2 separate regions of the Homo sapiens genome follow, and region 2 is linked to region 1. The links come from fine-mapping of genetic effects on gene expression. A gene starts in region 1. The other region holds a variant in brackets. All regions are shown on one strand. Distances are from middle to middle.

Region 1 (4,391 bases):
TTTTTACCACTGAAGCAGCAGTCATTTTTGCAGCACATTTTCATTTCTCTGCCCTTCTCGCTTTTACCTAAGAATGCTCATGTCCATTTCTTTCCGGAGTAGGGTTATACAGAATTCTAATTTCTGATCCGCCCATTTGGATAATGAATTCTTCATGGTGGTTAAAGACATGGGCTGTGCAGCCAGACCTTTCTTCATTACCAGCTGTGAAACCCTGGACAAGATACTTAAACTGTGTGCCTCAGTTTCCTCATCTGTCAAAAAGAGAGTATAACAGGACCTACCTCATAGAGTTGTTGAAAAGATTAAATGGGTTAATAGAAATAAAGACAATGGCCTATTTTAACCGTTAAGTGTTCACTATTAATTTTAAAGAAAAAGGTATCAAAATTGCTCGAAAACTGATCCGTTAACAAATTTATAATAAACTTTCTGACAAAATTTCTAAAAATACTAGATGTATTCAAAAGGAACCAAAGGAATTCTCATTACACCCTGTACCATTATTCAGAGAAGTTGTTCCTTAGAAGTACCCAGAACTATCTCAGAATTAAAAGAGGCAACTAATTTCTTCACAGCTTATAAAAATAAAACAAATTTGTTTGGGCCAACTGAATGATGACAAGCAAGAATATGGCTCCTGTGTTCAGTTCTAACTACAGTTACAGGTGTGAATTTTCTTTAAGCAGGAAAAAGAGGACACTTTACTGCCTTATTCCTAGAACCATAGAGCAAGACCATAAGATGCCAAGAGGAGCTGCCGAGGTATTTTCATTACAGGGGACAGGGGGCAGCAGTTTGCAAGTTTACTCTGGGATGCAAAGGACAGGGAGTAAGAGGACATTTGAACATACAAACATAGGCACGTAAAAAGAGGGAAATTCTCAGTTATGGTGAGTTTGTTCTCTCAATTAAAAAAAAAATAAAGACATAAAAATAAGTTAATAGAGTATGGAAGAAAAAGCAACAAATGCTTTGGTTACCGAAGTTCCACCTTAGAGCTTCCTGCAGTAGCAAAGTTTTAGACAAATGAATCCTTACTTTTGTGCACGTGTGAGCAACAATCTGCACAATACTAGCACTAAAGGACAGTAAGGGGCCCTCAGAACAGGAAAGCAACGTATCTGTCTGCATAGTCTAAGTGCAATTTCTCACGGAAGAGATGACAGGCATTCTCTGGAGCGGGCAAAAGGAGAGGAGGAGGAGAACGCGGGGAAATAGCCAGTACGCACTCGATTTCCGAATGTCTCTTTTACTCGAATGAGGGCAGAGGGGAGGGACCACTTTCGTTCAGTAATGATGAGAGGCACTTCAGTGAGGCCACTCTTCCGAAGCTAGCGGCAGGGGAGGCAGCCGCACTCTGCTCCCAGCCCCCGCAACGTTGAGGGTGAGCTGGGGGAGTCTACAAGGGAAGGGGAGCCGGCAACACGCTCGAGCGGAACCCTGCGGAGCTGCAACCCCGGGAGGAGTCGCCGGACAGACTCAGACGCGGTCCCCTGGGACCCAGGGATGCACCGCGCCCCTCCCGCCCCAGCCTGCAGAGACTGGATGCTTCCCTCCCCACCTGGCGGGAAGCAGAGGCCCTCGGGCCCGACCGAGTTCGGGCCAGGACCCGCCCCGCTTTCTGCGAGCGACCGACTGCGGCCGCCACACTCACCTCGCCGCCAAGCAGCACTCGGGTTCTGACTCGGTCTCGGGTTCCGGTGGCGGTGGTGGCGGCGGCGGCGGTGGCGGCGGCTCCTCCATGGCGGCGGCAGGCGTGACGGCAAAGGCGGGAGGAGGGACCAGCGCGGCAGCGGCTTCTCTCATCCGTGCACGGAGCCCCGCATGGCCGCGGCGGGCAGTAAGCTGCAGCCTGGCGCGGGGCACCGGAGCCCCGAAGTGCGGGAGTGACTCGACTCCGCCTCCGCCTCTACCCCGCCGCAGGAGCCGTGCGCGCCGCGGCCATCTTGGAAACGGCGACCGGCCGAGCGCCGGGGCTACGGTGGGCGGCGAGGGACAAGCCTCCCAGATCGGCGGCGGTGGCGGCGGCGGCGGCGGGCGCCGGAATGCGACCGGACGGGGGCGGAGACGGCGGCAGGGAGGGGCGGGGAGCGCCGTCAAGTGTCGGCGCGATTCGGTCCTGGAGCCGGGTCTCGCCAGCTCGCCCGGTGTCGCCCCGGCCGGTGGCAGTGGGGGACTGTGGAGCGGAGCCGGGCTGTGCAGCGGGCTGGGAGCTCGAGGCTTCCCAGGCGGTCGTCGGTCTGGGAGGGACGCTGGGTAGGGCCGATGAGCGGGGCGGGCGCGACGCTATGAGCCCGGCCGGAGTCGCCGCCCAGGGACCTGCCACCCGGATCCCACCTTCCAGGAGGACGGACGTCACCCAGACGCTCGCAACTCCGGTCTCTTGACAGCGCAGCCTTCCACAGGCTCGAATTTTTAAGACTTGACATAAAGTCTCCGGAATTCCAGATTATTAAAGTGACCCCCTCATTTCAACCCGGCAAAACTTCTCACCCCAGTGTCATAAGATTCGATAGCGATCTCCCAGAAACTTGGACTGGAATGCTCCTACACTGAGGGGATGGGGGGAAGAAGAAATGCTAAAGATTATTTCAGAGTTACAGAAATCCTGTTGAAATTCCAATGCATCGTTTACTCTTAGCGCTGGGGCTTCACAGTTTTTTTTTAAGTTGGAAATATTTACAAAATTTCCCATAGGGTGAAATCCAGAGTTAATCCAAAACCAGAATCTTTTAAAATTAAGTACATTCAAATGTGCAGATTTCTTAAACCTCATTTAGTTGAGCTTTGATAGGTGAAACGCACGTTTTGAACAACTCTGGTAACAAAGAAAAACATTAAATTGATTATAGGTATGTTATATTTAAAGACCAGTTGTGAAATTAGCTATATTGTGCTCAAAGTATGTTACTGACATTTCTCCGTCGTTAAAAGGAACTGCTCCATTCTAGTTTTTTATAATAGTCTGTATTATGTATATAGCCTGATAGTGCTGAATTTCTGAATTGACCTTCATCTTATTTACTCAATAATATTCATTTGACAAATACTTATTAAGTGCATATATGTGTCAGGAACTGTACTAGATGCTGAGGATATAGCAGTAAGCGCAACAGACCAAGCTAACAGCTTAGTAAAGGGTGAGGTAAAACAAAACAAAAAAGTATTCAAAAAAATAAACTAATTTTTATCTTAATTTAAAAAATTACAAATTTTTAAAAATCACAAATTGGTATCCATGTATAATTCATTTCCGTGCATTTTCTTGTGTGAAGAAAGCTCAGTAAAAGTATTTCTTAGGTTTCTGTAATTCTAGTTCTCTACTCGATTTTCTTCTGCAATTTTCTGAGCCAGAACCCTTCTTAGAAGGCATATTAGAGACTTTAAAAGTTAAATAATAAAATAAATCTCTTCTTTAAACAGCATTGTACTACGTATTCTTTGGTATGACTACCGAATTTAAGCTAGCTGATAATGCAGACACGTGTGTCCAAGTCACAAAACACTTAGCAAATATAATCAGCATGCGGGAGACCTGTGGCTTGTTCTTGTGTTTTAATTTCCACTTGAGGATACTATGTATTTTAGCAGGAACCAAGTAAATTTACACTTACCTAATCAAGTAATGCATCATGTATAGAAACCTAAGTTAACTGGTACTAAATATTCAATATAAGTGTTGTGACTTTTCGCCCCACCCCCATGCTGGGTCCAGGAAAGCTGTTTCTCTGGCTGACAACCCTCTCATCTCACCCCGTGCCCCCACTTTGTCTTCAGGGCTCCCAGTGAGCGCCTCACAGCCCCCAGATTTCTTTTCTGCCTTCTCCACCATAGTGTAAGCTCCTTCAGGAAAGAAGCTGTTCTTCCTTCTTCTGACCTTTGCCTAGGGATCAAATGTCTCTGGTGCCCAACATGGTGTTAGTAGAACTCAGTAAGTATTGTTGCATTAATGAAATAGTTATTTTTTTTAAGTTATTAGATTTTTGTCTCTAAATTTTTATTCTTGTTTAGCACATGGTTGGTCTCATTGTCTCATTACCTTTAATAATGTTCTTTTTTTATTTTGGAGACAGGGTCTTCCTGGGCTCAAGTGATCCTCCCACCTCAGCCTCTGCTGTAGCTGGGACTACAGATGCATACCACCATGTCCAGCTAATTTTAAACATTTTTTTTTTTTTTTTGGTAGAGCTGAGGCCTCACTATGTTGCCCAAGCTAGTCTTGAACTCCTGGCCTCAAGTCTCCCAGAACCCTGGGATTATAGGTGTAAGCCACTGCACCCAGCCTAATCATGTTAAAAACAATGACAACAAAATCTTCAGAGAATTACCTTTCACTCTTTGTCCTCAAGACCGAATCCACATAGCCCTTATGGAATTTCTTTACTTTG
Region 2 (4,391 bases), 120 kb before region 1:
CTGTTCTGCAATTTTCAAATATTCCTACAAGCAACATATATGCTTAACTTGTAGTCTAGTTAGAATTTGGGAATACTGTTCATCTCTCAGGACAGCTTGGCCTTTTGCTCTAGGCTGCAAGATATTATTGCTCCAACTAAGTCACACATCTCTGGCATTGTGTTCTATGGTACCTCCTTCGAAAAGCAACAACACAGAGCCAATGGAGTTAGACAAGCAGCCATCTGATGAGCTGAGGTCAACAGCGAATCCTCATAACTCAGTGCTCCTAGAGTTGATGCTCCCCACAATTGACTACGAGGGGCAGCTTGATCTTCTCGAGCGACTGTACATCTGTACCTTCTTAGCCATGCTGAACTAGAAAGCATTGGATAAGACACCAGTGAGCTGACCTGCTTCAGATTCTAAGGGAGTCTCTTCCTGCCACGGAACAAACGTGCAAACACCATTTTGTGACAGTGGACAGAGACTGAGGATGGTGTCTGTGGCAGAACGACTAGAAATAGGCAGTGCTACGGCCTGGTACAGAGCCAGTTAAGCCAACATCAGGATGACCCCAGACACCAAAGCAAGGTAGCGGACAGGCAGGCAGCCAATGAGACCGGTGTATGCTGGGTGATTCAGGGTGAGCCACATTACAGAGCACGAACAATGCTTACACCCAGACCAAAGCAGACTGGTGTAATCCAAAATAACCTCCCACACTGGGTCTTGTCCCTGGTCAGAAGTCAGGTCGGTTCCTAAGTTAATGTGTTTAGGTTAGCCTCAGACTACAGGACAGAATGAAACTCTTCAGCCTAGGGCCAAATAGGCACAAAAATACTTCCCCATTTTAATTATCCTCAAGACTTGCAAATACAAAGGTCAGGGGCATGGCGTGGTTAAGGCAAATGCCACGGTGACCGTTCTGAGACAGAAGCCCAGCTATTCCCCTCGTGCTATGAGAAGAGCACTTTTAATCCATCAGCATGGCCAAAATAACCTTCAGCAGAACTCAATTTCAAGGTTTGTGTAAACAAACCCCATTCTTGTCTCAAAAACGTAGCCTCAAATTTATATGTGCACTTCTGATCTGATTTACTGTCGGTTTACATATTCATGATTTTCATATATAAATAGACAAGAATCCTGACACGAGAGAAAAAAAAGGTTGCTTTGATCACGAATGTCTGGTAAGTACACGGGCTATGCCAAATCAGCTTATAAAAATAGCAAACTTCATTTTGGGAAAACAGATTTCTCTAAAAGCAGTGTTGAACAGAAAGAGCGGACTCCTGGGTAGAGAGACATGAGTTCTACCTTGTTTCTGAATACAGGATCCTTATAGAGGCGTATTTCAATGAAAGGTATTTCCATCTAGAGAAATCATATGTGGGAATGGGATGAGCGTCTTCAGAGCACCTCCCACGGGCTGGGTACCAGTGGCTCTGGCCCACAGCAGCCAGGCGGGTGTGGGATTACCTTTAATGTCACGGTGGACTATGCCATGCTCATGGAGGACGTTGATCGCAATGGTGATCTGCTTTGAATACAGCCTAATCACATGTTCCTGAAGTCCCAGCCTTGACACCTCTTCTAAAGTCCCCTCATCGCAGTACTCCATGAAGATGTACATTTCTTCCTGTGGGAGGAATAAAGGGCAGCTCTGTGTTTACGGTTTTCCTTAGATGTACGCTAGTGAAAAATCTGGAAAACTTCCTAGGCCACACCCCAAAGGAATGTTCTTTCTAACGGTATACTACACTTGCCATCCTGAGCACTGAATGTGTCTCACAACAGTCGTTTCTAAGTCCTCTATAGAGGTGTCTGCCTGCCTCCTCTGTCTGGAATTATACAGCTCTTGGGGATAAGAACATCTCCAAATCACAGGGGATCAATTTCTATTATCCTCTGAAATTAAGTCTGCTATATAATCTCAGACAGGGACCAACAGGGCTGTCCCTACAAATACATTATTAAGTACTGAAACACATCCTTTTTAAACATAATTTGTAAAAACATTAAAAATGATCCATTTCCAACTTCCCCTGGAAGCTCATGCTCTACACCACGATGCTCCAAGTTATCCTCTTTCCCTCGACGTGTTTATTTCTAAACACAAGG[A/G]GGAAACTCAATTTGAGGTTTGAATTTTCTCTCATTTCACAATGGCTCCCTAAATACATACAAGAAAAAAACCAGTATTACTTAACAGTGTACTCAACAGTGGTTCAGCAAAAAAACGGAAAAAAAGTCACAAGAAGTGGTGTAAGGGGCGTTTTAGAAGAATCTTCTGAATGGCAGGATGGGTTTCAGTGCTTTATGATGTCGGGTTAATGACTACAGTCTACAACTTACATTTTAGGAGGAACTCCTCTAGTTTCAGAGAGAAGGCAGAAATGATGTAACTCATGGAGATTTCCTGAGAATTAGGCAAAGTTACTGTGCTCTGAAATGAGAAGACCTGTGATGTAGAACAGGACTCCATTCTGTGCCCTCACTGATTCCTCACACAAAGAGTGGCATTAGGGTCGGCTTACTCTATGGAGCTCCACACCAAAATACCGAACCAGATTGGGGTGTTTGATGCCTTCGAATATTTTCAATTCGTCTGCAGTTTCCTTGATAGTCTTATGGTCATTAGGTTGAAATCGAATCTGTAAAGTGAGGTGACAAAAATGTTAACTGGCTTGATTTAATCACTCTACATTATACACATACACTGAAACATCATTTTGCACCCCATAAATATATGTAATCATGATTTGTCAATTAAAAACAACAAAAAATTAAGTAAAAAGGAAGTTTTTAGCCAAGCTAGAGTGAAGTCATAGAAGTGCGGGTAGGTCCCGGGCACAGAGGAGGAAGAGGCCCTGCTCCGAGAGGGAGTGAGGAGCGCCATGTGGAGGAGGACGCGGCTCCACGGCAAGTGCAAGACGCTGGAGCCTCCCCTCTCCACTCCTCTCCTCCTTCCACGTCAAACCGGATGTCTCCACAGACAGCAGTGAGTCCTGTTTCTACTTCAGGTTCCCTGGCCCTTTCCCCATCCTACCTCCAGCGGTTTCAATGCCACTTGTTTCTGAAGCTTATCATAAATGTTATCTTCTCCCCCAATGTGTCCCCATAAGACACTACTGTTAATCCTCTCCTCTAAGCCTTCATCAGACTCAGCTCTGCCACCCTCATAGGCCCTTCTCACACCTGTGCTGTTAGAACTGTCTGTGACTTATTATCCTCTCTGGAATCGTAAGCCCCTTCACTGTCTGTGTGTGTTATCTCAGTGCATCTGCCTGGTTGGTCCTGACTGTCGCAGTGCTGGTGCTGAAGACAGCTCTACGCACAGAGAACTGAATCACGACCAGCGTCTATACGGAATTTCTATCACCCAGAGCCGCCAGGCCCAAAGGCCCCACGGAGCCAGGTGACTCACCTCTTTCATGGCCATCAGCTCCCCGGTGTCGACGCTGATGCAGGTGTACACCTTCCCATACTGGCCTTCTCCTGTGAACAATGCAAACAAGCTGCACTTCCAGCCACTGCAGGGGGCTGTCTTACATTCCTTAAACTTGTAATAATACTGTCCAATTATTTTGGACGTATATTTATATATCTATAATTATGTTTACTGCAGTTTACTATTGCAAGATCCAAAATTTTTCTAAATGTTCCCTGATAACTAAAGTTTTAGGCAATCTCTTTAATATGTCTTACCTACAAGTATCTTTAAATAGAGCAGAACCGACTTTGGTAAATTCCAGGAGAAGCATGAAAATGACCAATAAAAGCAGCCTTGGTGCACACCTCTGAGCCCTCACACCCCTCAAGGAGATCTTGGCTGGGGCTGGGAGCAGCAGAAAACAGCCAGGACTAAGCCTGACCATTGTCTTCCTCACTGGCACATGTCCAGGAGTGTGTGGGAGCAAACATTCCCCTAACATACCTTCTGGGACATTAAAGCAAGAGGATATGTGCCTGGACAAGACTGATAACAATAATTAATCCAATTTATAAAGTACTTGATTGTTTTCAGTGGTTTTTGCCCTCCTTGATAGCTCCAAGGAAACATCAGGTTTCCTCAGGCTGACAAAGTCCCATATTATTCATACAACTGTGTTCGCCCCCTTCAGACCTAGATGTGTGACAGATAAATATATTTAAGTGGGGAAAGGATCTGAAACACAAGACTTCTTCCCTCACATAATTTACGACTATTTTACATGAAGCAATTCCACCTGGAAATTAATTAATGAGGCAATGTTTTAGAAAAGAAGACTGTCTTGCCCTCATTTGTATCCAGTCTCTCTTCAAATCACGTTCTGCGTGTGTGTGTGTGTGTGTGTGTGTGTGTGCGCGCGCGTGTGTAGAGAGAGAGAGAGAAACTAGAACAAATGGGTCAAATTTTGGTACCTCTCCAC

Direction of the effects. Alleles are on the strand shown, and positions count from the first base shown. SD is a standard deviation of normalised expression in the study named.
In carriers of allele A in region 2, the expression in monocytes after R848 of the gene that starts at base 1,972 in region 1 tends to be higher than with G alone (large effect, 1.2 SD a copy in Quach 2016).

The links.
Region 2: its variant is fine-mapped to the expression of MAP3K4 in monocytes after R848 (Quach 2016, PIP 0.95). The same link has a PIP of 0.9 or more in monocytes after LPS.

Annotation. Positions count from the first base shown.
Region 1 is chr6:160,989,350-160,993,740 of GRCh38, reverse strand. It overlaps MAP3K4 (mitogen-activated protein kinase kinase kinase 4), which reads right to left and starts at 1,972. Exons shown (of 27, transcript NM_005922.4): 1 at 1,658-1,972. The coding sequence starts at 1,809. MAP3K4-AS1 (MAP3K4 antisense RNA 1) reads left to right here and starts at 1,399. Exons shown (of 1, transcript NR_174962.1): 1 at 1,399-3,423. RefSeq lists silencers at 1,167-1,296, 1,210-1,504, 1,967-2,296 and enhancers at 1,565-2,434, 2,387-2,456, 2,477-2,536.
Region 2 is chr6:161,106,985-161,111,375 of GRCh38, reverse strand. It overlaps MAP3K4 (mitogen-activated protein kinase kinase kinase 4), which reads right to left. Exons shown (of 27, transcript NM_005922.4): 21 at 3,407-3,477; 22 at 2,517-2,633; 23 at 1,462-1,621. Among named protein-coding and RNA genes, the nearest start is that of AGPAT4-IT1, 53 kb to the left of the region's middle. The variant A/G (reference allele first, on the strand shown) is at 2,104.